5 separate regions of the Homo sapiens genome follow, and all the other regions are linked to region 1. Evidence: fine-mapped expression QTL. A gene starts in region 1. Each other region holds a variant in brackets. All regions are shown on one strand. Distances are from middle to middle. Region 1 holds the start of SUSD2 (sushi domain containing 2). Region 2 overlaps CABIN1 (calcineurin binding protein 1). Region 3 has its middle 4.7 kb from the start of GGT5. Region 4 overlaps CABIN1 (calcineurin binding protein 1). Region 5 has its middle 25 kb from the start of SUSD2.

Evidence for each region. PIP is the estimated chance that this variant, and not a neighbour inherited with it, causes the effect.
Region 2: its variant is fine-mapped to the expression of SUSD2 in whole blood (TOPMed, PIP above 0.99). The same link has a PIP of 0.9 or more in blood mononuclear cells.
Region 3: its variant is fine-mapped to the expression of SUSD2 in tibial nerve (GTEx, PIP above 0.99).
Region 4: its variant is fine-mapped to the expression of SUSD2 in whole blood (INTERVAL, PIP 0.95). The same link has a PIP of 0.9 or more in cerebellar hemisphere.
Region 5: its variant is fine-mapped to the expression of SUSD2 in sun-exposed skin (GTEx, PIP 0.91).

What each region holds. Positions count from the first base shown.
Region 1 is chr22:24,178,185-24,184,283 of GRCh38, forward strand. SUSD2 (sushi domain containing 2) reads left to right here and starts at 3,303. Exons shown (of 15, transcript NM_019601.4): 1 at 3,303-3,411; 2 at 4,873-5,083; 3 at 5,311-5,462; 4 at 5,952-6,099. The coding sequence starts at 3,336. It overlaps CABIN1 (calcineurin binding protein 1), which reads left to right. Exons shown (of 37, transcript NM_012295.4): 37 at 1-444. The coding sequence ends at 12. RefSeq lists enhancers at 5,273-5,352, 5,423-5,532.
Region 2 is chr22:24,091,745-24,097,843 of GRCh38, forward strand. It overlaps CABIN1 (calcineurin binding protein 1), which reads left to right. Exons shown (of 37, transcript NM_012295.4): 24 at 1-99; 25 at 4,187-4,338. Among named protein-coding and RNA genes, the nearest start is that of CABIN1, 83 kb to the left of the region's middle. RefSeq lists enhancers at 1-32, 33-532. The variant A/G (reference allele first, on the strand shown) is at 3,098.
Region 3 is chr22:24,246,741-24,252,839 of GRCh38, forward strand. It overlaps the pseudogene GGTLC4P and the pseudogene POM121L9P. Among named protein-coding and RNA genes, the nearest start is that of GGT5, 4.7 kb to the left of the region's middle. RefSeq lists silencers at 841-1,135, 876-945 and enhancers at 1,045-2,033, 4,841-5,341. The variant G/T (reference allele first, on the strand shown) is at 3,226.
Region 4 is chr22:24,021,017-24,026,564 of GRCh38, forward strand. All of the region lies in intron 1 of CABIN1 (calcineurin binding protein 1), which reads left to right. Among named protein-coding and RNA genes, the nearest start is that of CABIN1, 12 kb to the left of the region's middle. The variant G/A (reference allele first, on the strand shown) is at 1,962.
Region 5 is chr22:24,203,701-24,209,799 of GRCh38, forward strand. No RefSeq gene overlaps it. Among named protein-coding and RNA genes, the nearest start is that of SUSD2, 25 kb to the left of the region's middle. RefSeq lists an enhancer at 1,590-2,558. The variant A/G (reference allele first, on the strand shown) is at 2,808.

The DNA of each region.
Region 1 (6,099 bases):
ATGGACATTTGAGGGGCCACTGCAGCCCCACCGCCACGCCCCAGGGGACCAGCCAGGCCTGGAATGCCCCCTGGGCAGGACCCTGGGCAGGACCAGAGGCCCACATGGATGCCACTCCCCACACAGCCCCCAGGCCTGCCCAGCCCACCTCCTCATGGCATCCTCCCTGTACCCAGGTCAGGCTGTCCACACCACATGGGAGCCCAGAGGAGGAGGGGCCCGCCTTAGCCATGTGAAGGTGGATTGGTCGCCATCTGCACGCCAGGCGGCATCCTTTTCTATGAAGTGTTGACTTTGTAAATCTGCCCACACCCAGCTGGCCATATCCACCCCTCGACGCCGGGATGAGCCGGCTCTGCCTGTGTCACAGTGGAGGGGTCCTTTAGGGCCAGGCTCACCCCTCACCCTTTTTTTGGTTGCTTTTCTAATAAAGATGGAACAGTTGTCTTTGCCTCTTTGCTCACCTCTAGGGGGCAATCTGGCAGAGTCTCTGGCGGAGAGTTGCTGTCCCCAGGGATTCTGGGCCTTTACTGCCATAGTCCATAGGGCAGGGCCTAGCCCCCCTCCTTCTCCAGCATCTCAGGGACCAGCCAGGCAACCAAAGCAGCGGCTGGGGGTGCCCAGTGGGGTAAGGAGAGAGCCGACTCGGGGCTGGGCCAGGCAGACGCCTCTAGTGCAGCTGGAGCCAGGCTTCAAAGGGGAGTTAGGTGCATCCCCAGAACGCACCTGGGTGCCAGTGGGTGGGAGGCTGTACGGTGGGAGGGCAGGCAGGGCTGGGGCAGCTGAGAGGCTGGGAGGAGGGGGCTGTCAGGGAGGGAAAGGGGGGATGGGGCCGGCAGGGAGGGTACTTAACTCCCATCACAGTCGCCCTAATGGGGCCAGTCACAGAATAGCTGGGCTCAGTGCAAGACATAAATATGAAGCTCCTTGATCAAAAAGGATTAAGGATTTTTTTTTTTTTTTTTTTTTTTTTTTGATATGGAGTCTCACTCTGTCTCCCAGGCTGGAATGCAGTGGCACGATCTGCAGTGGCACGATCTCAGCTCACTGCAACCCCCGCCTTCTGGATTCAAGCGATTCTCTTGCCTCAGCCTCCCGAGTAGCTGAGATCACAGGCACACGCCAACACGCCCAGCTAATTTTTGTATTTTTAGTATAGACGGAGTTTCACCATGTTGGCCAGGCTGGTTTCAAACTCCTGACCTCAAGTGATCCACCCACCTTGGCCTCCCAAAGTGCTGGGATTACAGGCCTGAGCCACCACCATGTCTGACCAAAAATGATTAAGGATTTTAAGGCAGGCCCCACAGAGCATTAAGCCCCTAGAGCTGGCACCCTTCACAACTCTCTTCCCCTCCCAGCACCGCAGGGGCCCTCCTGGCCCTGGGACCTCCCATGGAGCAGGCTCTCTGTCCAGGATGGAGATGGGGACCCTCCTCACTGCCCTGTGCCCCTCATGGGCTGGACATGCCCACCACCCAGGAGGAAAGGCGTAAAGGGCTGGGCACCGCCCTTTTGGAACCAGAGGCTTGGTGGCCCCAGATGGGTCTGGCTGAACCCGCCTTTCGGGGGGCTGAGATAAGCCAGCCCCAGTTACTCAGCTGACGCCCCCTCCCTGCAGGGCCTGGGGTATGGAGCTTCCCAGACTGCACACCTAGCCCCTACCGCACTTCCATTGTCTCCAGACACGCGCAGCAACGGTGCCCAGGCCAAAAACAGGAAGCAGCAGCTCTCCCTCCTCCAGTTCCCGGGAACTGTCTCAGCCGATCCCCCAGCACCCCTCCCTGGAGCCTCACCTATAGGAGGACGGACACCTCGGACCCTCCCCTGCACCCAGTGCTGTAGGGAGCAACTTCAGCCCTGGGCCTGGGATGAATGCCCTCGCCAGCCTGGGGCCAGGAGACAGGCTCTCCCTGGCTCAGCACCTGAGCGTCCACTTACAGGACACTCACCTGCAGAGGTGCCCTGAGCGCCATTGTGGGTTAAGGGACTTTCTCCCCTCTGGAGACAGTCCCTGAGAAGCTGAAGGTCTTGGGGGCCTCTCACCAAATGTCTTTGGGAGGTGGGAAAACATCAAATGCGGGTGTGGCTTCCCTGGAACAGCTCTGTGTGGGGACTCAGGAGCCAAGTCCCCCAGCACACGCCTCTAACACTTTCAGTAGGGGCCACCTCTCTGGAGCCACGGGTGGCTGCCAACACCCTGTGGTTCCCAGCAGGCACCACCCAGGCAAGAGAGAGAACAGGCCGGGGAACAATGGGCTGGCCTGGCCGCAAGCGCTGGGGCAGATCACAGACCGGATGGCCTAAGCTCATGCCCTGGGGCCACCTCTGACTCCCTGCAAGTGTGGCAAGGGTCCCTTTTGGACACCTTGAGAAGCTGCAGCTGGGAGAGGACCACCCGCCTGTCTGGATGTCCAGCCCAGGTGTCAGGGTCCAAATGACCAGTCCCAGGCCGCAGCCCTTACCACCCGCCCTGGCTGCAGGGGCTCCCAGAAGCCACCAAGGGCCTGGCTCGGCCTTGCCTATCCGCATCTGAGCTTCAGTTTCCTCATCTGCTCAAGAAGGGAGGTGAATACTGATTAAATTATGCAAACTCTTAGCGGCAGGATTAGGTGTGGCTGGGACAGCCAAGGCTCCCCAGGGTGGTGGCATCTCTGGAGCCCGGGGATGGGCCCTGTCTCCCTTCCGGGCCCCCCGCTGGGCTTGGGTACCTTCTCTCCCCTTCCTCCTTCCTCCCTCCAGAGGGGACCCCTGCAGAGCTGCCTCCGCCCCAGGGCTCAGCCTGTGTCTGACCCAAACAGCTCCTGCCTCCCCCTGAGGATGAGTTGGGTGCACCTCCTTCCTGCAGGAAGATGAGGGCTAGAGATGGAGGTCTATGTCAGGGCCACAGAGTCTGGAATCCTCCCTGGAGCTAAAACAGCCCTGCCTTATTCACCCTGCGCATCCCATCCTCTGCTTCAGCCCCGCCGGGCTCGCCCTGCATGCAAGGCGGGGCTGGGACCCAGGGTCTGAGCTTCGCCCTCTGGACATCCGGCTCATCGCCTGCCAAAGGTCCTGTGGCTGGAGGCTCCGGCCTCCTCACCCTCCCACAGGGTCCCAGGGCCGATCCAGGCCTGCGGGCCAGGAATGTGCTAACGGGGCAACTTGGGCCTTGCTGGTCCACGCAGGCACCTGTGGACTTTGAGAGGGGACTGGGTGGGGAGGGGCGGGGAGGGGCGGGGCGGGGCGGTGCCGCAGAGTGCAGGGCGGGCGGGGCCAGGCCAGCAGGGAGTGAGCTTGTCTGGCCGCCTCGCCTCGGAGCCACTGCACTGCTGGCTGCAGACACAGGCTGCACCATGAAGCCAGCCCTCCTGCCCTGGGCCCTGCTGCTGCTGGCGACAGCCCTCGGCCCGGGCCCCGGACCCACAGCAGGTATGCCTCCCTGCCCTTCTGTGTCCCCGTCTGTCTGTCCATCTGTCTGCAGCCAGGCCTGGGCTGACATCCCTCTGGGCTCAGCCTCTGTCCATCTGTCAGGCCATCTGTGGCTGTGCTAGGGGTGATGGGAAGAAATTCTGAGGGTCCATGTGGAGGGGCAGCCCATGGGGATGGGAGGTCTGAGCCGGGCCCACCCTAAACCTGCTGGTAGCTAGGAGGGAGGCGGGGGAGACCAGCAGAGGCCTCCGCCTGTGTCCCCAGCCCTGACAGGGCGGGATCACGGAGGGGGAGCCAGGATTGTGGGTCCTCATCAGGGTGGGGCTGAATCCAGGAAAGTCTAGGGAAAGCCCCGAACTCCAGAACCAGGACACTGGTCCCAGGCTGCCCCCCGTCCCCCACCCCATTTCCCATCGACCCTCTTGCCACTTATCTCACTTGCAAGCATCTCTCGGCCTCCTCCCCCGACCCCTGTGCGCCACCAAATCCTTGGCCAGTACATATTTATTGTTGCTTTTAAGTGCCAGGCACTGCACTTGGTGAAGTGGGGCCAGCGGGGTGGCTCAGGCCCAGGCCTGGCCCTCGACTGGCCTCTTTTGATGGGGGATGGGGAAGGGCCAGGGAAGTGCAATTCCAGCCTGGGTGCATGCACCTGCCCCAGTCCCTCCCTGCAACCCTTCCTTCATGCCAGCCCCTGGAAATATGGCCTTGCCCACCGGTCTTATGGCCCATAGGAGAAGTTTTGGGCCCGGCGCCCACAGCCCCTTGTGGTGTGCACCCCCACTTCCCTTTCCCCACTGCTGGGACCCCTGCTTGAAATGTCCCTCCTCTCCCCAGAAAGGAGGGGAGCGGCCCTGGCCTTCTGCCCTGAGCACGGAGCTCTCTTTGGGGTCTCAATTGCAGCCCCTGGGAGAGCGAGAAGTGTCACGTTCAGACCCTGCACCATTCCCTACCAGGCCTCAAATGAGACTCTTGGCAGCCATATCCCCCACCCCAGTCCAGGCAAGCAAGAGGGGTTCTTCTGCAGGCTTCAGGGCCCCCAGAAGGCGTGCTGACCACAGACACCCTGGGGAGCCAAGAGAGGTCGAGGGCTCCAGCTACCGTGGCCCACTGAGGACCCCTGCCTGTGGGATAGAGGACTTGGTGGCTGAAGGGCAGTCATGCCCAGGGGCTTCTCCTGACCCTGCAGGGCTGAGCGGATGCAGCTTTTTGCCTCTTCTCGCTGCATTCTAGCCCGTCAGTCAGGGCAACAGCCAGATGGTCTGTGCTAAGATTCATCCCATCCCCACGGGCCCTGTGGCTTTCTACTGTGTCCACCTGGTGGCCTGTGCAGTTCCTGGCCAGCGTTCTCCTGGGGATGCTGCTGTCTAATGGGCTGTGGGAGAAACAGAGACAGGCCCTGCACATGGGGCAGCCAGTCCAGTACCCGCCGGGCCAGGCCCTCAGCATCCTCTCCTCCAGATGCCCAAGAGAGCTGCTCCATGCGCTGTGGCGCCCTGGACGGGCCATGTTCCTGCCACCCGACGTGCTCTGGCCTTGGCACCTGCTGCTTGGATTTCCGGGACTTCTGCCTGGAGATATTGCCCTACTCAGGATCCATGATGGGCGGCAAGGACTTTGTGGTGCGGCACTTCAAGATGTCCAGCCCCACAGACGCCAGTGTGATCTGCAGGTTGGGAGGCCCAGGAGGCCGGGCACTGGGGCCCCACGCCCCCATCCCTGTGCATGCTGAGGGCTCAGACCCACTGACTGGCTGAGTGGAGCCCCTCGGACCCAGGACAGGCAGGAGGGCACAGGGACAGCTGGCTGGTTGGGTTCCCCAGGGAGGTTGGGGGCCCAGACCATCGAGAGGCTCAGCCTGCAATGACCCAGCCCCTCCCACCACCACCACGCCCACAGGTTTAAGGACAGCATCCAGACCCTCGGCCATGTGGACTCCTCCGGGCAAGTGCACTGTGTGTCACCTCTGCTCTATGAGAGCGGCCGCATCCCCTTCACTGTGTCACTGGACAACGGCCACTCCTTCCCTCGTGCGGGCACCTGGCTGGCTGGTGAGCCCTCCTCCCTGCCCACAGCCTGCCCCCACGGGGACTTTCCCCAGCGCTAATCTATGCACACCGAGACTTGGCCTGTCCGTGCCCTGCCTCTCTGGCTGAACCAGTCCCTTGGGAGGCCTGCCCGCCTGCGAGAGTTCCTTCAGCTCCTTTCCACTCCCTGGCATCCAGACCGCGGTCCCAGCCCAGAGTGAGTGGGAGCTGCAGGGGTCCCTAGAGAGGTGGGCCAGTGCCTATCCACTGAGCTCCGCCATGCCAGGGCAGGGGAGAAGCCAGGTCGAGGCTAGAGGCGTGGGCAGTGGAGGGAGGGCAGGCCCCTGCCTCTGCGGCCTCAGCGTCCTTTTCTGCTGTGCGGGCCAGAGAGACCATCACCCAGCTGCTGCCATGCATTGGCCCTGGAGGCTCCCACAGCCCTTGAAGCCTCAGGGCCTCCTCCCTGCTTCCCTGGGCCCAGGCCCTCACTCACCCCTCACCTCCCCTGCCCAGTGCACCCCAACAAAGTGTCAATGATGGAGAAGAGCGAGTTGGTGAACGAGACGCGTTGGCAATACTACGGCACCGCCAACACCTCAGGCAACCTCAGCCTGACCTGGCATGTCAAGTCGCTGCCCACGCAGACCATCACCATCGAACT
Region 2 (6,099 bases), 86 kb before region 1:
TACAGGCAGGCTGGCCACTACCTGCACGAGGAGGCTGCCCGCTACCCCAAGAAGATCCACTACCACAACCCACCTGAGCTGGCCATGGAGGCCCTGGAGGTGACACCATGCTGGCCCAGGGCGGGGAAGCAGGGCAGGGGCAGGCTGGTTTCTTTATCTCCCTGGGCATGTGGCTCAAGGTTCCAGTGACCGTCCTTCAACCTGCCGCAAACTTATCTGTGTTGAGCAGCTTCATGTGCAATTGAATTAAAACATCATTTCCTCTCTTTTCCCAAGGGGTGTTTATCATCCTTTCTGGGAGAGTGACCATTTTGTTCTTATCTCTCAGAAGAAAATTGTCTTTCCTCACTAACACAGGTTCTAAGAACCTGACCTTGGTGATGACAGTCAGTGCTACATAGCATCTCCCAGGCCCAGGACATTCACACCCTGTAGCCTGGCAGGAGGGAGGGCAGGCACCATTGCCTCCAGGGTGCAAATGAGACATCCAAAGCCCAGCCTGTGCCCAGGCTACCCAGGTTGGCAGGGGCTGAGCTAGGGTGAGCAGCCTGCTCTCTTGACCCCCAGTTTGGAGTCTTCTGATTGTTGTTCAAGAAAAGAGCAGTTCTTTACTCCCTGGATTTTCTCTCATGGTTTCCAGAGTGTTTCTGATGAATGCTGTCACTGTTGCTTATAGCAGTCTTGTGAGGCAGGCTGGGCAGCCACGATTGTCAATTTTGTAGGCAGGAAAACCAAGGACATTGGTAGAGATCCAGATGTCCACCATTTGGTTCAGCCCAGGACTTGAAGCTTCTGAAGGCCCTGTGCACGTTGGCTTTGCCCTTTCTGAGGCTATGTGCCCAGTCTCTACCAGTCTCACGTGCCCAGCAAGCCTCTTGGAGTGTGGACAGAATCTGCTGCTTGCTTTTTTCTGCCTTTGTGATTTTTTTTCCTGATTATAAAAGTGTGTGTGTGTGTGTGTGTGTGTGTGTGTGTGTGTGTTTTAAAGAGATTCAAACAACTCAGAAGTGTACAGTGTGAATGTGAAGGCCCCTAGTGATTCCAGTATGCCCCTCCATAATCCCTAAGAGTTTGCTATGTCCCTGTATGTCCGAATTTTTTCCTATTAACATATAAACATATAGTAACATTTTCTTATGATTTTGCAGCTTGTCTTTTCGCTGGACAAAATTTAATGGAAGGTGTGGTGAGCTTCCCTGCCTGCCCTAGTGCCCTGTAGTTTAGCAGGGCGTTTGTTTATCTGCACGGACCCTTGATAGGTTTGGTTTCCTCTCCACTTCTTGCTATGACAAGGCACAGGCAGTGCATGTCTTTGTACTTGAAGCAGGGAGCACATCATGAGTATTTCCAAGGACTAGAGTCCAAAGGTGGAATTGCCAGGTTGTTTAGCATTCTGATCAACAATGGCTACTTGCCCCAAGGTCGTACTGACTGATGAGAGTGTTTGCTTTCCCTCAGCCATATTGATGAGGTTCTCTTTTTAATATTTGCTAATTTTGTGAGCAAACAAAAATGTCTCATTTTGGCTAGGTATGGTGGCTCACGCCTGTAATCCCAGCACTTTGGGAGGCCGAGGTGGGTGGATCACCTGAGGTCAGGAGTTCGAGATCAGCCTGACCAATATGGTGAAACCTTATCTCTACTAAAAATTAGCCAGGTGTGGTGGTGGAGGCCAGTAGTCCCAACTACTTGGGAGGCTGAGATGGGAGGATCACTTGAGCCTGGGAGGTGGAGGTTGCAGTGAACTGAGATTGTGCCACTGCACTCCAGCCTGGGTGACAGAGTGAGACCCTGTCTCAAAAAAGAAAGGAAAAAAAAAACTCATTTAAAAAAAAATGTTTGGGCCAGGCATGGTGGCTCACACCTATAATCCCACTGCTTTGGGAGGATTGCTTGAGTCCAGGAGTTTGAGATATAGAGCTGGGGATCTCAGAGACTAGCGGGCAACATGATGAGACCCCCCCATCTCTACAAAAAATAAAAGATTAACAAGGCCTGGTGGCACGCACCTGTAGTCTCAGAAACTTGGGAGGCCGAGGTGGGAGGATTGCTTGAGCCCAGGAGGTCGAGGCTGTAGTGAGCTGTGATCACACCACTGCACTCACAGCCTGGGAGACAGAGTGAGACCTTGTCTAAAAAAAAAAAAATTAAATTTGCCTGTTTTGGGGCCATATTCACTGGGCTCATGGAGAAGTGTGGAAACACAGCTTCCTGTTGAACGCTATCTCAGGAGCAGCAGCTTGGCTGCGCTCATTCGCGGCGTTGGATCTCCGTCCTTCCCTGTCATAGTGCTCATACTGTCCACCTGGGGGCAGGTGCCTTGGAAGAACTCCACTTTGGGGGTGAGAAGGGTAAGGCCCAGAGGAGTGATGTGATGACTTGCCTTAAGTCACCTGCAGGAACAGAGAGGAGCTGGGCCAGATGCCCACTGAGCCCAGCATTCTCATATGGCACCTCTGGGAAGCCACTGAACCTACGTGTGGCCCTCAGGAAGATGATGTCAACTCTGTTTTTCCTCCATGTTTTTTTCTTCAAGATTTGGCCTCTACTACTGCCTGATAGAGCAGATGAGCAGGCAGGATGGTAGCCCCAGGGGTACCAGCAGCTTCCATATGAGGAACCAAGGCCTTAGATGTGTGGCCTACCCTCTCCCAGCACACAGTGCTGGCTCCAAGGAGAGCAAGCACACATAGTTAATTTGGGGGGCAACCCATTCCATGCAACCATTGTAGCTATGTAACTTTGAGTCAGCTGGTAAATATGTATATCTTGTGTTAAAAATGACATTTCTGGCCGGGCGCGGTGGCTCACGCCTGTAATTCCAGCACTTTGGGAGGCCGAGGCGGGTGGATCATGAGGTCAGGAGATCGAGACCATCCTGGCTAACAAGGTGAAACCCCGTCTCTACTAAAAATACAAAAAATTAGCCGGGCGCGGTGGCGGGCGCCTGTAGTCCCAGCTACTCGGGAGGCTGAGGCAGGAGAATGGCGTGAACCCGGGAAGCGGAGCTTGCAGTGAGCCGAGATTGCGCCACTGCAGTCCGCAGTCCGGCCTGGGCGACAGAGCGAGACTCCGTCTCAAAAAAAAAAAAAAAAAA[A/G]AAAGAAACAAAAATGACATTTCTCTGAAGATTTTTAACTCTGTCCTGACAAAAATTCTCCTCTGCTATTGTGCCTTCATTCAAGAATCTTTACTCGCCACTTGGATGAACTTTACCAGTTGAATGCTTTGCCCTCCCCCAAGTTTGGCCACCTGATTGTGCATGGGTGCCTCGAGTGGTTTCCTACATCTAAAAATGGAGTTGCTGGGCCAATTTCTCTGGGCTCCATAGGTGGGCTAGAGGTGGAGGGGCTCTGGATGTGAGACCCCTCTGTCTGGGATGCCTCCTTGAGAGTGCTGCCAGCAGGTTCTCACCTGGGTGAGGGGGGCCACTTAGCCAGGGCCTGCAATGGCAGTTCTCAGCCCTCATACCACCCACTGTGCCCTCCAAGTGGGAGCCTGCCTCACACCCACTCCTGCATGAGAAGATCAGGGCAGACCTGGTTTTAACCTGGCCCTGGGCATTCCCGGCTGTGGGGCCTTGGGCAGCTCTTCACCCATTTTAAATTGAGGAATGTGGTAAGGACTTGAGGAAATGGAGGAAAGCACAGGGCCCAATGGATGCAATGAGCTGCCTGCCCACCCACCCCCCCACCACACCCACGGGGAAGACGTTTTCGAGGCCTGTGGGTGCCTGGCTTTGCCTGGGGGCTGGGCTATAAACAGAAATCCAACCTAGTCCTTGTTTCAGGGAGTCCAGAGTTCAGTGGGGAGACAGATGTAGAAACTCACTTTCTATGGGTGCCCACTGAAGGGCACAAAGAGAACAGCAGCACTGTGGCGGGAGGCAGTGCCCAGTGAACGGAGCTGAAGGGTTATCATAATGAGTGGTTATTACTCTCATCTCACTACCATGTGCCTGAGTTACTGCGTGAACGTTTAAGCTGGAATGCTGACAGTATACATTTTAATTTTCACAGCTTGTTTTAAATTAGTTGTAGGATGGTTGGTTTAAAAGCTAACAAAAACAAGCAGTGTGTGGCAGCCTGTTGCCCTGGTCATGGGCCCATTTCCAGTGTGGCTGACTGGCCTGTGGAACAAATCTTAGCAACTGGGAAGGCTGCTCACACTAGAGGTGTCGTTCTCCTAGGTGTACTTTCGGCTCCATGCTTCCATCCTGAAGCTCCTGGGGAAGCCCGATTCTGGGGTTGGTGCAGAGGTCCTGGTCAACTTTATGAAGGAGGCTGCAGAAGGACCCTTTGCCAGGGGCGAGGAGAAGAACACACCCAAAGCTTCAGAAAAGTGAGTAGCACCCTTCAGGCGACCCCTAGCAGCTTACCCCATCTGCATCCCAGATGGCTCGTTTACTGCAATGTGTTGTTCAGAGGGTTGCTACACAGTAAACAGTAAACTAGAACTCATGGAGTCCCTAGGACCCATCTGGAAACTCCCATTTGCTGGGCCAAGGTATTTCTGTTGAGTCTGAGAAGGAGAGGGTGAGTGTGAGTCCCCTTACCCTGTGGTCATGTGTGGTGCTACCCCACCCTAAGGGGAAGTCCTGGGGAGAAGCTGATGCCCTCCTGCCCTCTCCACTGGGGCACAGCTCTGTTCTGTGCAGAACACTGTAGAAAGTCAGTTTTTGCTTTGCAGACTCTCACCCCTGGGTCCTTTGCCAAGGCCTTGTCTGCTGCCCATTCTCCTGAGAAGCAGTGGGAAGTGTGGGAAGTGTGGGCTTCTCATGTGGTGCCAGAGAGCTCGGAGAGACTGGGGCTCAGGTGTGGTCCTCTCAGTGGGCCTGGACTGACCCCAGTCTCCCTGTGGTTGTAAGTCATCTCCACAGCCCAGACTTCTTTCACTCCAGGCCCAGGTCCTGGTGCCGCCCCATCCTCAGGGGCAAGTCCTAGGGAGAAAGATGGGTTTGGGGTGACATGGGGAATGTTGCAGCTGCCCATTAACCTGATGGACTCATGCTGATTCTTGTGCTTCTGAGACATGCTCAGGGTCACCACCTGCCAGCTTGCCCACATGGGAGCCAGGGGAGGGCTCAGCTCACCCCATCTCTGAGTCCGCTGCCTAGCTGGGCACTGTGCGAAATTCAGCTGACCCCTGCCTGACTGGGCACTGTGCGGGGTTCAGCTGAGTGCCAGAGAGGCCTGCACCCAGGCCCTGTGCTTGAGGGCTGTCTGCTTCTGACCACAGATAGCCTGTGTGATGTTCACCACAGGTGAGCCAGCTCCACAGTCGGTGTGCCCCTCAGGTTATGGGGAGGTTCACGTCCATGCATGGCAGGCCACTCAGGTGGGCAGCCGCTGTGCTCAGAATTTATAGCTACCCATTTTTTTAGTCACAAAGGGCCCCCAACATACAATGATACTTTCTTTCATTGGTTATAATTCTGTTAAATTTTTTTTAATTATACAAATAATACATGAATACTTTCTTGTTATAGAACATTCAGGTAGTATATAAACATGTAGACTAAAATGTGACAGATCTCCTTCCAAGAGTTAGCTACTATTCACAGTTTAATTTCCTAAATCATTTTCTGTATATTTATAACACTTAAATGCACACATACAATTGTAAGGTTTCATTTATTTTATAAAAATGAACTACAGAAGGTATTGTTTTAGAGTTTGCTTTTTCCCCTGACAGTGGGTCTGGGCAACAGTCCATGGAGATAGTACCCCAGTCACTTCATTCTTTCTAGTGGCTACTTACTATACCATAGTATGGATGTACCATGTTTTATGTAACCACTCCAATGGACATTTAGAGTGTTTCTAATGTTTCTGCTCAACTATGTTGCAGCACATATCCTTGTACATGTGTGAGCATGCAGTAAATGCAGATGTGTTTCTGTCTGCCCATTTGTCAGGTCTTAAGTTTGTCAGGCTGTCACACAGAAGGCATAGACTTTGCATGGAGAGATGCAAGGGTGCTTCTGAAGAAAGACTCTTTGGCTCCTCTATAGAGCCTCTTGGGGCCTGAAATTCAGAGATGCAGGTCGCGCCCTGCCAGAAAGATTAGGCAGTGTCCAGTTAGGAGCCAGAGCCTGTGTGG
Region 3 (6,099 bases), 69 kb after region 1:
TGGCCAGCTCCCACTTCTCTTCCTGCTGTGCAACCCAGAGCAAGGCCTGCCCCTCCAGCTTCAGTCTTCTCCCCTGCAAATGGGGCCACGGCCTTTCCTCTCAGGCCGAAATAAGGATTGAGGCCGGGTGCAGTGGCTCACCCCTGTAATCCTAGCACTTTGGGAGACTGAGATGGGGGGACTGCTTGAAGTCAGGAGTTTAAGTCCAGCCTGGTCAACATAGTGAGACCCCATCTCTATTTGTTTAAATAATTTTTTAAATTAAATAAATAAAATAAGGATTGAGGAGTGACTCGTACATCACTCAACTGGGAGCCCCAGAGACACAGCCCTCCAGGGCTCAGAACCGGTGGTACTCTACTCTGCAGGCACAAAACCCTGTTTGTGGGCCCTTTGGTATCACCAGGTTTTCGGGGCTCCTGAAGGATAGCCCCGACCTGGCCTCACCTGGGCCCTGGCCAGAGTGCCCCTGGTGATATCCAGAGTGCCCCTGGTGCTGGGCTGTGACCACCACCCCTCACCAGCCTATCTCCACCAGCCTTTCCCAGAATCCTGCCCCAGGTGTTGGAACTGTGCCTGGAGGAGGGAGCAGGCCCCGAGGGAGGCCTGGAGGGGCTGCTGATGGTGAAGGCTGCTGTGTCTAGTTGTTCCCTTCCAAACCCACTCCCTCTGGGCTGCATCCCCGGCTGGTCCAAGCCCTGATCCCTGGGATCTGGGGACCTCTTCCAGTTTGCTGTTCCCTGAGAACCAGGCCTCCCTCTGGAGAGGATCACAAGCTTGGGTTTCACTCTGGGCTTAAACTTGGAAACCCCCCAGGGGCTTGGCTCTGACTGAGATGTTTTCCTCCAGCCTCTTGCCCAATCCCCACTCCTCAGACCTCAGCTTCACCTCCCATGTCCTCGGCAGGGTGAGCTGGACGCCTACGGGTCTGAGAAGGCACCCGGGTTCCCGGCATCAGCTGGCCACTCTCTGCCTAAGAAAGGGCCGGGGTCGCTGCACCCTCTGGTGGCTGGTCCTAGGTGGTGTTGCTGCCCAGCCCAGGGAAGGGAGGGCCTGGCCCCAAGTCTGAGGGATCAGGGTGGGAAGGGGCAGGGCTTGGCATGGACCTTCCCCTGGCCCCCAGCCACGTGCCTGGCTTTCCCCATGCTGAAGATGCTGAGGCTAGTTCCAGCGACCGCAGCGTGAAGATCTCCGAATCCCGCCTCTCCAGTGCCTCATTTATTGTGCTGCTCTGCTGCTCACAGGGGAAGCCGGTCCCCCAGAGTCCCCTTCCTGGTCCTAGTGAGTATCTTGTCCCTAGATTGCTTGTCAGCCTTGTCCGCCTGGAGCACTCAGTAGCCAGCAGGCTCCCCGCCTTTCCTGGAGTCCGAGGCAGCTGCCCAGCCACCAGCCGTGTGGACGATGGCTTGCACCACAGCGATGAAAGTGGATGCGATCTGGGTGTGATGGTGCCGGGTCTCCAGGGCTGCAGTCACTGCCTGGGGGTGGGAGGAGAGGGGAAGCCTGAGCAAGGCTCCAGATGCCACCTGAACCACATCTGTGTGGTCACAGGCCTCAGCCCAGGTGGTGCCATTTCGGGCCAGGTCATCAGGAAGAGCAGGTTGGGGCCTGCTGGGTCTCACTGGAGCAGGGGGTTTGGCCTTCATGTCACAGGGGCTCCAGATGGCCCAGGCACTAGAGAGAGGACACCAACCATTGTCCACTCTGTGATGATCCAGGCCTCCAGCCCAGGATGCCCTGGGGCCCCACACCGTGACTCAGTTTCTCCAACCCCCGGCCCACCTGGTCAATGTTTCTCTCCACTGTCGTGACGTTGGGCAGAAGCTGGTTGTGCAGCCGGGGCTCCTCCACGGCCCGCTTCACGTCATAGCCGAACCAGAGGTTGTAGATGATGGCCTGGGGCATGGGAGTGTGATCAGCGTGGCTTGGGGGCTGTGCAGGGTGGGCACGGCCAGGGAGAAAAGCTGTGACACATATCAGTGCAGTGGCTGTGGTGATCTGTGTGCCCCCAGCAGCTCCCACAACCATCCGGACCTGGCCGTCCTGGCCCACCATGATCGTCGGGCACATGGACGAGAGCGGCTGCTTCCCTATGGCCGATGGGAGAAGACAGGGATGCCCGTCAGCTGCCTGCCCAGGACACCCGCCCCTCTCCACCCCAGTCCCCCACCCCCGGACCTCCACCCCATACCTGGCTGGATGAAATTGGCAGGTGAGGGGGCACCCCAAACTCGTTGGTGATGTTGGGAGAGCTGAAGTCGTCCATTTCATCATTGAACAGGATCCCGCTGACCGGGGAGCGGACCTTGGAGCCAAAGCTACCGCCCAGCCAGGTCAGACAGTGCCCGACCTTGCCTGGCCCAGCCTGGTCCCTATCCACCCACTGAGGCTCAAACATACTCACTGAGAGGCCCAGGATAAGCTACCAAGGTTGGGCCTCAGTTTCCCACCAGGAAAAGAGGTGACGGAGCCACCTTACTGGATAAGTGGGCAGTCCCTGGGCCACCCGCCCCTGGCCCTTTCCCACCCAGGCGGCCCAGCAGCCCCTACTAGAGGTTGATGGTGCTGGTGGTGGACACAGCACTGCCGTCTTCTGCGACGACAGACAGGTGAGCAGTGCCCCCATCAACTGGCGTGTAGAACTCGGGCTTGTAGTAGGAGATCGGGTGAGTGGTGTCGTCAGAGATCTGGGCCCGGAGCTGGGCAGCGAAGAACTCAGAGGTCATGTTGCGGACCACCTGCCGAGACCCCAGAGCTGGCCTGAGGAGGTGGGGAGGGAGGGTGGGGAGGGGGCACAGGTCTCAAAAGGCCCCTGACTGTGGCTCTGATCACAACCCTCTGGCACCCACAACCTTCCGTGGCTCCCCAGGACCCAAGGGCAGGCCCAGGATCTTGCAAGACCAGTCTGACTCCCTGTCTCTGTCGCGTTCCAGCAACTCTGAATGTCTGTCTGCCTGGTCCTCAGCCTCCAGACCCTTGCTGCATTCAATCACTCATTCCTTCATGCAAAAAATATTTCTAGAGTTTGCACTGCATGCCTGGCACTGGGGAATCAACAGGGAACAGACACTTAGGTCCTGCCCTCATGCCAAGAAAAACAAACACACACAGGGAAAGTGCTGAAACCACAAGCCAGGTAAGGGGAATCAAGAGGCATGAGGTATGGGCAGAGTGGTCAGGGAGGGCTTCTCAGAGGAGGCAACGTGTGAAAAGAGCCTGGAATGT[G/T]GCCTAAATGGTCAGTGCAAAGGCCCTGAGGCAGGTGGTATAGGCTGGTGAGCGATAGGCAAAGAGTGAATGGAGTGGGGTGGGGAGAAGAGGATGAAGATGCAGGCTGGGGCCCATCCCACAAGACCTCCTAGGTCCCATAACAACTGGCTTTTGCTCTGTGCCATGCAGGCTTAGGGCAGAGGAATGAGCAGGCTGGGGAGTGTTTTCACAGGGTCCCTCTGGCAGCTATGACGGGGATAAGGATAAAGCCCAAAGGGGAGGCTGTGGGTATCAACCAGGCAAGAGATGATGGCCTGGGTGGGAGAAAGAGAAGAATCAAGGATGGTGCCGACTAGCGAGGTAAACCCTGCAGAAAGGGCAGGTTTGGGGATGGTCAGGAGCTTGATTCTGGATACTTCATCAGACCTGAAGAGCATGGGTGCACGTATAAAAAAATAAATAAATAAGCATGGGTTCACGGGCAAGGGCGGGCTGAGAGATGAACATGGAGGTATTGACATTGAGTGGCTGCTGGATGCCATGAGCCTGGCCAAGGTCCCCAAGGCAGTGGCGAGGAGGAGATGAGGAGGTCAAGGAGGAGACAGAGGATGGACCCGAAGGCCGAAGAAAATGCCTCAAGGGAGTTTCAACACCGGGCGCGGTGGCTCACGCCTGTAATCCCAGCACTTTGGGAGGGGGATCACGACGTCAGGAGATGGAGATCATCCTGGCTAACACGGTGAAACCCCGTCTCTACTAAAAATACAAAACATTAGCCGGGTGTGGTGGCGGGCGCCTGCAGTCCCAACTACTCCAGAGGCTGAGGCAGGAGAATGGCGTGAACCCGGTAGGCGGAGCTTGCGGTGAGCTGAGATCAGGCCACTGGAATCCAGCCTGGGCGATAGAGGGAGACTCCATCTCAAAAAAAAAAAAAAAAAAAGAGAGAGAGTCTGGCTCTGTTGCCCAGGCTGGAGTGCAGTGGCGCGATCTCGGCGCATCACAATCCCTTCCCCGCCCGCCCCCGGGTTCAAGTGATTCTCCTGTCTCAGCCGCCGGAGCAGCTGGGACTACAGGCGCGTGCCACCATGTCTGACTAAATTTGTATTTTTACTAGAGACGGGGTTTCACTATGTTGGCCAGGCTGGTCTCCAACTCCTGATCTCGTGATCCGTCTGCCCCGACCTCCCAAAGTGCTAGGATTATAGGCATAAGCCACCACGCCCGGCCTCTTTTTTTTCTTTTTCTTTTTTTTATCTGGAGACTGAGTTTTGCACTTGTTGCCCAGGCTGGAGTGCAATGGTGCGATCTCAGCTCACTGCAATCTCCACCTCAGCAGGAGAGCAGGAATCTTCAGTGATCCACGGGCAGATCTGCCACCATTGTGGGCACCTGTTCCTCCCGCAACCTTTGTGCCCGCCTCTCTCCTTCCAGTACCTATTGCATGACCCCCCACGTCCGCCTCCCGCCATTGCCAGCAAGTGCCTCGCGCGGGTACCTGGCTGCGCTTATTAATCCGTTAAGCTCGCTCTGTCACGGGCGCCGTGATGTGCTCACGCGCCCACTCCCTCAGGTTTAAAAGGCGCGTTGCCCGGCAACAGAAGAAACTGCTGGCTTAGCCTTTGGCGGAGTTGGCGGCTGGACGAGGACGCTCAGAGCCCAGCTCTCGAGAGTTCAAGCAACCGACGGTTCCCCACTGCTCCCAGGAGCGGTTACCTGGGCACTCTGTGCCCCTCCTTCCTGTTCGGGCCCAGGCCGAGGACCTGCCAGTAGGGCTCAGTTGCCTGGAGCCCGTTCAGCCCATCCCCCAGTTCACTTTGCCTGTGGGATCTCCCCGTTGCTCCTGCCCGTGGACTGAGTGGCAGGCCATCCTACAAGCACCCGGACACTTGACATCAGTGGTGTCAAGACAACTCTAAGAAGGTTTTCCGTGATCCTGCAAGCCCTGCGTTCCTTCCTGGGATCCTGCCTTCAATTTGATTGCACAGGTACCACAGCAAGCCAGTGCTGTGTGCTCCGAGTTCCAGGGCGTCCTCCAGCTCAGCCACTGCACTGAGAACATGGACTCTCTGTGGGGCCCAGGAGCCGGGAGTCACCCCTTTGGGGTCCACAACACCCGGCTGTCCCCAGACTTGTGTCCAGGGAAGATAGTGTTGAGGGCCCTCAAGGAGAGCGGGGCAGGGATGCCTGAGCAGGACAAGGACCCTAGAGTCCAAGAGAATCCTGGTGATCAGAGAAGGGTCCCCGAGGTCACCGGGGATGCACCGTCTGCATTTCGGCCCCTGCGGGACAATGGAGGCCTCTCTCCCTTTGTGCCCGGGCCCGGGCCTCTGCAGACAGACCTCCATGCCCAGAGGTCAGAAATCAGATATAACCCGACATCCCAGACCTCCTGGACGAGCTCCTGCACCAACCGAAATGCCATCTCCAGCTCCTACAGCTCCACGGGAGGCTTGCCGGGGCTAAAGCGGAGGAGGGGGCCAGCCTCATCCCACTGCCAGCTGACCCTCAGTTCCTCAAAGACAGTGAGTGAGGACAGGCCTCAGGCTGTCTCTTCAGGTCACACCCAGTGTGAAAAGGCAGCAGATATAGCACCAGGGCAGACACTCACCCTCAGGAATGACTCCTCCACATCCGAGGCCTCTAGGCCCAGTACACACAAGTTTCCCCTGCTGCCACGCAGGCGAGGGGAGCCTTTGATGCTGCCACCTCCCTTAGAGCTGGGGTACCGGGTCACTGTTGAAGACCTGGACCGGGAGAAGGAGGCGGCCTTCCAGCGCATCAACAGTGCACTGCAGGTTGAGGACAAGGCCATCTCGGACTGCAGACCCTCACGGCCTTCCCACACTTTGTCCTCACTTGCAACAGGGGCTTCTGGTCTGCCTGCCGTTTCTA
Region 4 (5,548 bases), 160 kb before region 1:
TGAGACAGGGTCTCACTGTGTATCCCAGGCTGGAATGCAGTGGTGTGATCATGGCTCACTGCAGCCTTGAACTCCTGGGTTCAAGTGATCCTCCCACTTCAGTCTGCTCAGTAGCTGGGACTACAGGTGCATATCACCATGCCTGGCTAATTTTTATTTTATTTATTTATTTATTTATTTATTTTAGAGATGGGGGTCTCACTATCTTGCCCAGGGTGGTCTCGGACTCCTGGAGTCAAAGGATCCTCCAACCCCAGCCTCCCAAAGTGCTGGGATTACAGGCATGAGCCACCAAGCCTGGCCATCATTTTAAAATATTTTTGTAGAGACAGGGTCTCACTATGTTGCCCAGGCTAGTCTCGAACTCTTGGGCTCAAGCCATCTTCCTGCCTTGGCCTGCCAAAGTGTTGGGATTACAGGTGTGAGCCACAGTGCCCGATCAATTTGTCTTTTTTAAAAAATTATTTATTTATTATTTTTTCAAGAGATGGGGTCTTGCTGTGTTGCCCAGGCTGGACTTGAACTTCTGGGCCTTAGCCTCCTGAGTAGGTGAAATTACAGGTGCACACTGCCATACTTGGTGCGTGATCTGTCTTGTTTTGAGATTGGTTTGAAGCCTCTAATTTTTAGGGTGTTACTGTTTATGTGTCCTTGCATCTCCTTTGGGTTATTCTTTGTTTTTTGTTTTTGTTTTTGTTTTTGTTTTGGAGACAGAGCCTCACTCTGTTGCCCCAGGCTGGAGTGCAGTGGCTCTGCCTCCCAGGTTCAAGCGATTCTCCTGCCTCAGCTTCCCAAGTAGCTGGGATTATAGGCACATGCCACCATGCCCAGCTATTTTTTGTATTTTTAGTAGAGATGGGGTTTCACCATGTTGGCCAGGCTGGTCTCGAATCCCCGACCTCAGGTGATCTACCCACCTTGGCCTCCCAAAGTGCTGGGATTACAGGTGTGAGCCACCGTGCCCGGCCAGCATATTCTTGACTGTCATATCATCAGTGTGAATTGTGCCTTTGTTACATTTAATACTTTTGGGCTTGAATTCTACTTTGATGTCTATCCCTGTGCTATTTTTTTTAACAAATTGTATTTCCTTTTATTAGAATTTTTTTATACTTATTATGTTTAATTAAATTATTTGACCTTTTTTGGAGTTATAGTTCTGTGACTTTTGACACATGTGTAGACTTGTTACCACCACCATCATTACCACTATCAGGATAAGGAACAGTCCATTGCTTATGGCACCCCTTTACAGACACCTTCCTTTACCCCGGGCTGCCCCTGATGTGTTCTCCATCACTATAGTTTTGTCATTTCAAGAATGTCATGTAAATAGAAATATAATAGTGTACAACCTTTTGAGACTGGCTTTTCTCACTTAGCATAATGCCTTTGAAATTCACCTCAGTTGTTTCATATATCAATTGTTTGTTCCTTCACATTAGTAGTAGTATTCCACTGTATGATATATCACAGTTTATCTACTCACCTAATGAAGGATATTTGAGTTGTTTCCAGTTTTTGGTGATTTGAGTGGAGCTGTAAACATTTTTATACAAGTTTTGTGTGAACATTTCTCTAGGATAAATAACTAGGAGTGAGATTGATGTATCATATGCTAGTGTATGTTGAGTTTTATAAGAAACTGTTTTCTAGCATGGTTGAACCATTTTCCATTCCTATCAGCAGTGTATGATTCTTCCAGTTGCTCTGTGTTGGCATTATCAGTTTTTAAAAAAATACAGCTATTTTAATAGGTGCATATGGTAGCTCATCATGGTTTTAATTCATATTTCTCTAATGATGAATGAGGTTGAGCATCTTTTAATTTATTTACTTGTCTTTGGTGAAGTATCTGTTCAAGTCTTTTGCCCATTTTTTAATTGGTCTTTTTTTATTGTGCCAAAATTTGTATAACATAAAATTTACCATTGTAACCATTTTAAGTGAACAATTCAGTG[G/A]CATAAAGAACATTCACAACATTGTATAACTGTGCCACTATCTATTTCCAAAAAATTTTTATCATACCAAACAGAAACTTTGTGTTTATTAGGCAGTAACTCTTGATTCCTCCCTTCTTGCAGGCTGTGGTACTTTCAGTCTCTAGGTACCTTGTATATCAAACAATATTTGTACTTTTGTATATGGCCTATTTTACTTAACATAGTGTTTTCAAGGTTCATTCATGTTATAGAGCATGTATCACAATTTCATTCCTTTTTGTGGCTGAATACTATTTCATTGTATTTGTATACCACATTTTGTTTATCCATCTATTGGTGGACACTTGGTTTGTTTCTACCTTTTGGCTATTGTGAATAATGCTGCAGTGAACATGGGTGAACAAGTATCTGTTCAAGTCCTGTTCTTTCAGGTAAAAACCTGAGTGGAATTGCTGGGTCATGTAGCAATTCCATGTCTGACTTTTTGAGGAACTACTAAACTGTTTTCCACAGGGGCTGGACCATTTTACATTCCTACCAGCAGTACATGAGTGTTTGAGTTTTTCTACATCCTTGCCAACACTTGTTATTTTCCATTTCCTTTCTGTTTTATTTTTTTGATAATAGCCATTCTAGTGGATGGAAATAGTATCTCACTGTAGTTTTGATTTACATTTCCTGGATGACTAATTTACAATTCCCTGATAAGCATCTTATGCACTTACAGGTGTTTTTATATCTTCTTTAGAGAAAATGTCTTTTGAAAGTCATTTACCTGTTTTTTTTTTTTTTGAGATGGAGACTTGCTCTGTCACCCAGGCTGGAGTGCAGTGGTGCGATTTTGGCTCACTGCAAACTCTGCCTCCCGGGCCCAAGCAGTTCTCATGCCTCAGCCTTCTGAGTAGCTGGATTACAGGTGCCTGCCACCATGCCCAGCTAATTTTTTTATTTTTAGTAGAGATGGGGTTTCACCATGTTGGCCAGGCTGGTCTCGAACTTCTGGCCTCAAGTGATCTGCCTGCCTCAGCCTCCCAAAGTGCTAGGATTACAGACGTGAACTACCATGCCCAGTCATTTACCCATTTTTAAATTGACTTGTTTGTCTTTTTGTTGTTGAATTGTAGGAGTTCTTTATATATTCTGGATATTAATCTCTTATTAGGTATATGATTTACAAATATTTTCTTCCATTGTGTGTGTTGTCTTTTCACTTTTTGATAGTGTCCTTTGCATAAAAGTTTTTTTTTTATTATACTTTAAGTTTTAGGGTACATGTGCACATTGTGCAGGTTAGTTACATATGTATACATGTGCTACCTTTGCATAAAAGTTTTACATTTTGATGAAGTCTAATTTATCTATTTTTCCTTTTGTTTCCTGTGCTTTTGGTGTCATGCTTAAGAGGCTATTGCCAGATCCAAGGACATGAAGATTTTTCCATATGTTTTTTCCTAAGAATTGCTTCTCTCTTGCTGCTTTCAAGATCTTCTCTTTGGTTTTGGTCTTAATAAGTTGACTATAATGTGTCTCAATGTGGATGTCTTTGAATGTGTACTTCTTAGAGTTCATTGAACTTCTTGGATATGTATGTTAATGTCTTTAATTGGATTTGAGGAGTTTTCAGCCATTATTTCTTCGAATAATTTTTCTACCCCTTTCTCTCTTCTCCCTCAGATACTCATATGATACATACGTTAGTTTTCTAGATGGTATCCCCCATATGTCCGTATGTCTCTATTCATTTTTCTTTATTCTTTTTATTTTTCTCACACTGGATAATTTCAATTGCCTTTCCTTCACATTCGCTGACCATTTATTTCGCCTGCTCACATTTGTTTTTGAATTTTCAGTTGTATTTTTAGTCTTCAGAATTTTTGTTTGATTTCTTTTTAGAATTTCTGTCTCTTTAGTGATAATCTCATCTTGTTCTTACATTATTTTCCTTATTTCCTTTATTATTTTGTTCATCTATCCTGATTTCCTTTAGTTGATTCAGTGTATTTAGGACAGTTAATATTTTTGACTAGTAATTTCAGTGTCTGGTCAGGAATATTTTCTATCAAATTCAGTTTCTCAGGGATGGTTTCTATCAAATTCCTTTTTCCTGTGAATGTGCCACATTTTCTTTTTTCTTTGTATTCTTTGTAATTTTTTTGTTTAGAATTGTACATTCTAAGTATTATAGTATGGATAATGTTGGAAGTCAGATTTCTGACTTTTTCTTGTTGAGGGCTGCAGCCATCAATTTTTGACTTTTTCAAACTATTTTTGCAAAATGTATTCCTTGTTGTTTGTGGGCACTGTAGATTCTGTTCCATTATTTCTTTGGTCAGCCAGTGACCTGACAACGATTTCCTTAAATGTCTGATTCAAAAGGGGGGAAAAGGTGTTCCATCTCTTTAAATCTTCTGATAGAAGCCACCTGTGAAAACATCGATAGCCTGAGAAGGCCAAAACCAAGGCAAGTATATACCAGTTCTACAGGGATCTGCCAGACCAACCAAAGTGCACAAACCCACATTTTTGTAGGTTTGGAACCAGCCAGCCACTTTAGGAACATGAGCTGCTATCCCTATAGCCGTGAGTGGTGGGGCCGAGGAATGGGGGATGGTAGCTGAGTCAAGTTATTCTTTTACCAAATATCAGCAGCCTCTGCTCATCAAACGCTCTGCTGGTTGTTTTAAGTGTTCAGTCAGGTTGCAAAGTTTTGTTTTGTTTTGTTTTGCTTTGTTTGAGACAGGCTCTCACTCTGTCACCCGGGCTGAAGTGCAGTGGTGCAATCTCAGCTTACTGTAGCCTCGACCTCCCAGGCTGAAGTTATCCTCCCACTCAGCCTCCCAAGTATCTGGGACTACAGGTATGTGCCACCACGCCCAGCTAATTTATTTTTTTGAGACAGGCTTTCACTCTGTTGCCCAGGCTGGAGTGCGGTGGCACAATCTCAGCTTACTGCAGCCTCAACCTCCTGGACTCAAGTGAGCCTCCCAACCTCAGCCCCCTAGTAGCTGGAACAACAGGCATGTGCCTCCACGCCCAGCTAATTTTTTTGTATTTTTTTGTAGAGACAGGTTTTCACTATGTTGCCCAGGCTGGTCTCGAACTCCTGAGCTCAAGTGATCCACCCATCTCTGTCTCCCAAAGTGCTAGGATTATAGACTTGATCCACTGGGCCTGGACTAATTTTTTTTATGTTTTGTAGAAACGAGGTCTCACTCTGTTGCCCAGGCTGGCCTCAAACTCCTGGGCTCAAGCAATCATCCTGTGTTGGCCTCCCAAAGTACTGGGATTATAGGTGTGAACCACCATGCCTGGCCAGGTTCCAGAGTTTGAAACAGTAGATTTTGATGATTATTTTCCTAGTTTACTGGTTGTTTTGGTGGAAGGACTGACCTTTTCATTCTTGTAGCAGTGTCTTTTGTAAAGCAAGAGTTTTTCAATTTGGAAGTTCAGTTTATTGAGTTTTTTGCTTATGGGTTGTGTTTTTTTGTGTTGTCTGAAGGCTTGTCTAACCCTAGGTTTCAAGGATTTTCTCCTGTGTTTTCTTTGTTTTGTATTTTATGTTTAGAAATGATCCATTTTGAGTTATTTTTTGTATTACATGTGAA
Region 5 (6,099 bases), 26 kb after region 1:
CAATATGGTGAAACCCCATCTCTACTGAAAATACAAAAATTAGCCAGGAGTGGTGGCATGTTCCTGTAATCCCAGCTACTCGGGAGGCTAAGGTAGGAGAATCGCTTGAACCCAGGAGGCAGAGGATGCAGTGAGCCAAGATAGCACCACTGCTCTCCAGCCTGGGTGAAGGAGTGAGACTGTCTCAAAAAAAAAAAAAAAAAAAAGGTTCAATACCTCCAGTCTATGTTCACCTTATCTTGAGTTCAATATCTCCACTCGATGTTCACCTAATCTTGTGTAAAGTGCTGATTTACTGATTTACTGAGCACAAGTATCAGAGGCGTGTGAACCAGAGCAACTCCATCTTGAATAGGGGCTGGGTAAAATGAGGATGAGACCTACTGGGCTGCATTCCCAAGAGGTCAAGTCATTCTTAGTCACAGGATGAGATAGGAGGTCGGCACAAGATACACGTCATAAAGACCTTGCTGATAAAACAGGTTGCAGTAAAGAAGCCAGCTAAAACCCACCAAAACCAAGATGGCAACGAGAGTGACCTCAGGTCTTCCTCAGTACTACACTCTCACTGGCGCCATGACAGTTTACAAATGCTGTGGCAATGTCAGGAAGTTAACCTATGTGGTCTAAAAAGGGGAGGCATAAATAATCTATCCCTTGTTTCACATATAATAAAAAATAACCATAAAAATGGGCAACCAGCTGCCCTCCACACTGCTCTGTCTATGGAGTAGCCATTCTTTTATTCCTTTACTGTCTTAATCAACTTACTATGGACTTGCCCTGAATTCTTTCTTGCTGGAGATCCAAGAACCTTCTTTGGGGTCTGGATTGGGACCTCTTTCTGGTAATGCAAGAGGAATACGTAATTTACTCTTCCCCTACCTGCTCCTTTGTGCTTTCTTTCTCTCTCTCTCTCTCTCTCTCTCTCTCTCTCTATATATATATATATATATATATGGCTGTTTGTAAGAAAGAGCGCCCAACTGAAATCAGCCAGAAGCCCCTCTCAGGTTTATTCTCTAGAATAAACCTGTCTTTAACTGTTGAGCCACTTTTCATGTTTCCTTCCTCTTTCTTTAACTGTTATAGTCATTATCTGTAGATACTCGAGAAACTGTTAGAAATAGGTGAATTGAGCTATATATATAGAGAGAGAGAGAGAAAGAAGGAGAGAGAGAGAGGGAGAGAGAGAGAGAGACACTGGGTCTTGCTCTGTCACCCAGGGTGGAGTACAGTGGGGCAATCATGGCTCACAGTAGCCTGGACCTCCTGGGCTCAATCGATCCTTGTGCTTCAGCCTGCTGAGTAGCAGGGACTGCAGGCATGCACCACCATATCTGGCCAATTTTTGTATTTTTTTGTAGAGATGGGGTTTCACGATGTTCCTCAGGCTGGTCTTGAACTCCTGGGCTCAAGCAATCTTCTCACCTCACTCTTCTTTTTTAAATTTTGAAGCCCTCAAAGTCACCTTTGGGGAAAGGCACAGACCATAGGCTGCTTCTGTGATTCCATTTTTTTTCCCCTCCTGGGCATTGTCCTTAACCTTGGCAAAATAAACTCTTAAGTTGATTGAGACCTGTTTCAGATGCTTTTTGATTCACACTACTACAAGCGATTTTACTTCAAAAAAGGTTTTTTTGTTTATGGCTGGTACGTAGAAATAACATTGATTTTTGCATATATTCCTTGATTCCAATTGATGCGGCTTTGATGACTGGAGGAACACCAGGGTTTTGGTTTTGTACTGATAGGATTAATGACACCGACACATGTGGAATGGTTTTTTGTTTGTTTTTAGCTTTTTATTTTTTTGAGACGGAGTTTCACTCTTGTTGCCCAGGCTGGAGTGCGATGGCACCATCTCAGCTCACTGCAACCTCCGCCTCCCAGTTTCAAGCAGTTCTCTTGGCTCAGCCTCCTGAGTAGCTGGGATTACAGACATGTGCTGCCACACCTGGCTAATATGTGTATTTTTAGTACAGACGGGGTTTCACTATGTTGGTCAGGCTGGTGGAGTGGTTTTAAGGAGCAAAATGTTTAATAGGCAAGAAAGAAGGAAGAAGAAAACAGCTTCCCCTTACAGAGACAGAGCAGGGGGATTTGAATAAAGAGAAACCCCATGTGAGTCAGAAAAGTGGTTGCTTTTATTGGGATGCTGGAGGAGTTGGTGTTTGATCTGCATAAGGCCCAGGGGATTGGTTTGACCAGGTGTGTTATTTACCCAGCCAGTGAAAAACCTGGCCCTTTTACTTTAGTCCTTTAATATGCAAATGCAGATTGCAATGTTTTGAACACATGATGTTATCTGGAGGTGGCCATGACACTTGGGATACCTGGTGACAAGGAGATGATGGTGGGAATTGCCATATTGGGTGAACCCAGTTTTTAAAGGCCGACATTTGCATATTAAAGCTTGCTGGCCCCGCCCTTCGAGCTGCCTTTTTTGTTAGAAAAGAGATGGTTTGGGGGTTGTTTTTTATTACAGGAAAATTTTTACCGAGAACCTTTACCTTTATTATTTGTCTAAAAATTATTTTTAATAACTTCTGTATTACAATGACCTTGCTCAATTCACCTATTTCTTTATTTTATTTTATTTTTATTTATTTATTTATTTTTTTATTTTTTTTGAGACGGAGTCTGGCTGTGTCTCCCAGGCTGGAGTGCAGTGGCGCGATCTCGGCTCACTGCAAGCTCCGCCTCCTGGGTTAACACCATTCTCCTGCCTCAGCCTCCTGAGTAGCTGGGACTACAGGCGCCTGCCACCGCACCCGGCTAATTTTTTGTATTTTTAGTAGAGACGG[A/G]GTTTCACCGTGTTAGCCAGGATCGTCTCGATCTCCTGACCTTGTGATCCACCCGTCTCGGCCTCCCAAAGTGCTGGGATTACAGGCCTGAGCCACCGCGCCCGGCCCAATTCACCTATTTCTAACCGTTTCTTGAGTATCTACAGATAATGACTGTAAGAGTTAAAGAAAGAGGAAGGAAACATGAAAAGTGGCTCAACAGTCAAAGACAGGTTTATTCTCCAGAGGGGCTTCTGGCTGATTTCAGTCAGGGGCACTCTCTCTTACAAACAGTCATTTGTAGTTTTCTTTCTGTGAACAGTGAATCACATCCCTGTGCATATTTCTACTGGATACTTGGTCTTTAATACTAATAGTATTTATTGGTTTTTTAGGGTTAGAGGGCTTATCACAAGCTTGGAATGTTTCTGTGTGGGGGAGAAGTTTATGGGGGGGTTGGAATGTCTCTGGTCCCAGGGGAGGTTATCTTGGGGCTAATGTCTCTCTGGCCGGAGGGGAGGTTATCTCGGGGCTGGCATGTCTCTGGTCAGGGAGGGCTTTAGAATGTTTCTGGTTGGAGATGTTATTTGTGGTTTATGGTCATGCTGACCTTAGCCATTAGGCTGATGCCCTTTGGATTTAGGCAGTTTTTGATCAAGGTGAACTTTAAAATGATGGTGCTTGTCCAAGATGGCAATGCTCCTGCTCTGTCAATGACAGTCTTATGTCCTCCTTTCCAACCTTTATGGCTTTTGTTTTTCTCACCTTATTACATTGGCTAAAACTTCCCCTGTAATACTGGAAGGAAATAATGAAATAATTCTTAGCTTGGTTTCAATCTCAAAAGGGAGGCTTTTTATGTTGTACCTTTAAGCATGACATTTACTGTAGGTTTTTGTAGCCACGATTTATCAGATTAAGGAAGTTTCCTTTCATTCCTAGTTGCTGAGAGTTTTTATTGTAACTGAATGTTGGCAAATTTTATCAAATGCTTTTCTGCATCTACTGAGATGGTGAGTGACTTTTCTTCTTTATTCTGTGAGTGTGGTGAATTGTGTTGCTTGATTTTCTTTTTTCTTTTCTTTTTGTTTTGTGACAGGGTCAGGCCCTGTCATCCAGGCTCGGGGGCAGTGGTGTGATCATGGCTCACTATAGCTTTCCACCTCCCAGGCTCAAGTGATCCCCCAACCTCAGCCTCCCGAGTAGCTGGGACTACAGGCGCATGCCACCATGCCCAGCTAATTTTTGCATTTTCTGATAGAGACAGGGTTTTACCATGTTGGCTCGGCTGGTCTCGAACTTCTGGGCTCAAGCGATCCATAGGCTTCAGCCTCCTAAAGTGCTGGAATTACAGGTGTGAGGCTTCATTTTCTAATGTTCAGCCAATCTTGCATTCCTGGAACAAACCTAAATTGGTGGTGACGCATATTTTTTCCTTTCAAGCCCTGGTTTCTTCATGTTTTAAGGGCTATGCATCTCTGTTCATGAATCAAATAGCCCTAGACTTTTCCTTCTTGACATTTTTTTGGCCAGGTTTTGCTTTCAAGGTTATGCTAGCTTCTTCAAAGACGTTGAGCAACCTTTCCTCTTTTCTGTTCTCTGGAAGTTTGTGTAAGACTGGTATTTTTTCTTTCATCAGGGTTTCAAAGAATTCACTGAGGAAGTTCTGGGCTCGGAGTCACTTCCTCTGGCCCTGTGGGATCTCACTGTTGTTTGAATTGGCAATGTTTATTTATGAGTAGGCTTGAGAACTTTTTGTCTGTTGAAACAGCCATTTGTAGTTTTCTTTCTGCAAACAATGAGTCACATCCCTGTTCATATTTCTACTGGATACTTGGTCTCTAATATTAAATATTTAAGTATTTAAATATTTCAAAAACCAGCCCCACATCATGTATTGAAACTGTTTTTCTCCAGGTTTTTCACTGGTCTTTTGTTGTTGTTGTTGTTGTTGTTGATAATAGAGATGAGATCTTACTGTGTTGCTCAGGCTGGTCTCAAACTCCTGGGCTCAAGTGATCCACCTACCTGAGGCACCCAAAGTGCTGAGATCACAGGTGGGAACCATTGTGTTCAGCTTTATGTAAAAAAAAAAAAATTCTGAAAAGACCAGTGAAGGCTGGGCACAGTGGCTCACACCTGAGATCCCAGCACTTTGAAAGGCTTAGGTGGGTGGATTGCTTCAATCCAGGAGTTTGAGACCAGCCTGAGCAACATGGCAAAACCCCATCTCTATTTTTAAAATTATTTTTAAATCAAAAATTTTTGGCTGGGGGCGGTGGCTCACACCTGTAATCCCAACACTTTGTGGGGCTGAGGCAGGTGGATCACCTGAGGTCAGGAGTTCGAGACCAGCCTGACCAAGATGGTGAAACCCTGCCTCTACTAAAAATACAAAAATTAGCCGGATGTGGTGGTGGACGCCTGTAATCCCAACTACTTGGGAGGCTGAGGCAGGAGAATCGCTTGAACCCGGGAGGCGGAGATTCCAGTGAGCTGAGATTGTGCCACTGCACTCCAGCCTGAGCAACAGAGTGAGACTCCATCTCAAAAAAACTTTTAATATTTAAATAAAAATAAAAATTAAACTAAATTTAAATTTTTAATTTTTACATGTTCATATTTATTAGCTTTTTTCTTTTATGGCTTTTTGGTTTTATGACATGCCTAAAAAGGCCTGCCCCACTCTAAGAACATAAACAAAATTTGCCCATGTGTTCTTGTGATATTCATATGGTTTCATTTTGGTTTGTTTGTTTGTTTTGAGACAGAATCTTGCTCTGGAGTGCAGTGGCACAACCTCGACTCACTGCAACCTCCACCTCCCAGGTTCAAGTGATTCTCCCACCTCAGCCTCCCAAGCAGCTGGGATTACAGGCGCCCACCACCATGCCCAGCTAATTTTTACATTTGGAACGTTAGTACTTTAGTCTCCCCATCTATAAAACTGGTATAATCACAGCTCCCCTTCTGGAGAGAATTACATAAATTAACGCATGTAAAGGAATAGAATAGCACCCAGCCCAACTCATGCCGTTTCTGTTGTATTAAGATATATATTCGGGTTAAGGGAAGTTCTGTGAAAGGACCATATGTGCAAAGAGACCCCCACATGCTGAAGGAGCCAAGAAACCAAAGAAGGAGGCCGACAAATCAAGTTTGTTGGTGTGGCACAATTCATTACGGGAAACTTACAGACAGAAGCATGGTCTTGGGCAGCCACAAGACAAGTAATCGTGCACACGGCAAATCCCCAGACCCAGGACTTGTATCTTGGGGAAAATATATGTACCCTGTTAGGAATGTGTAAGTG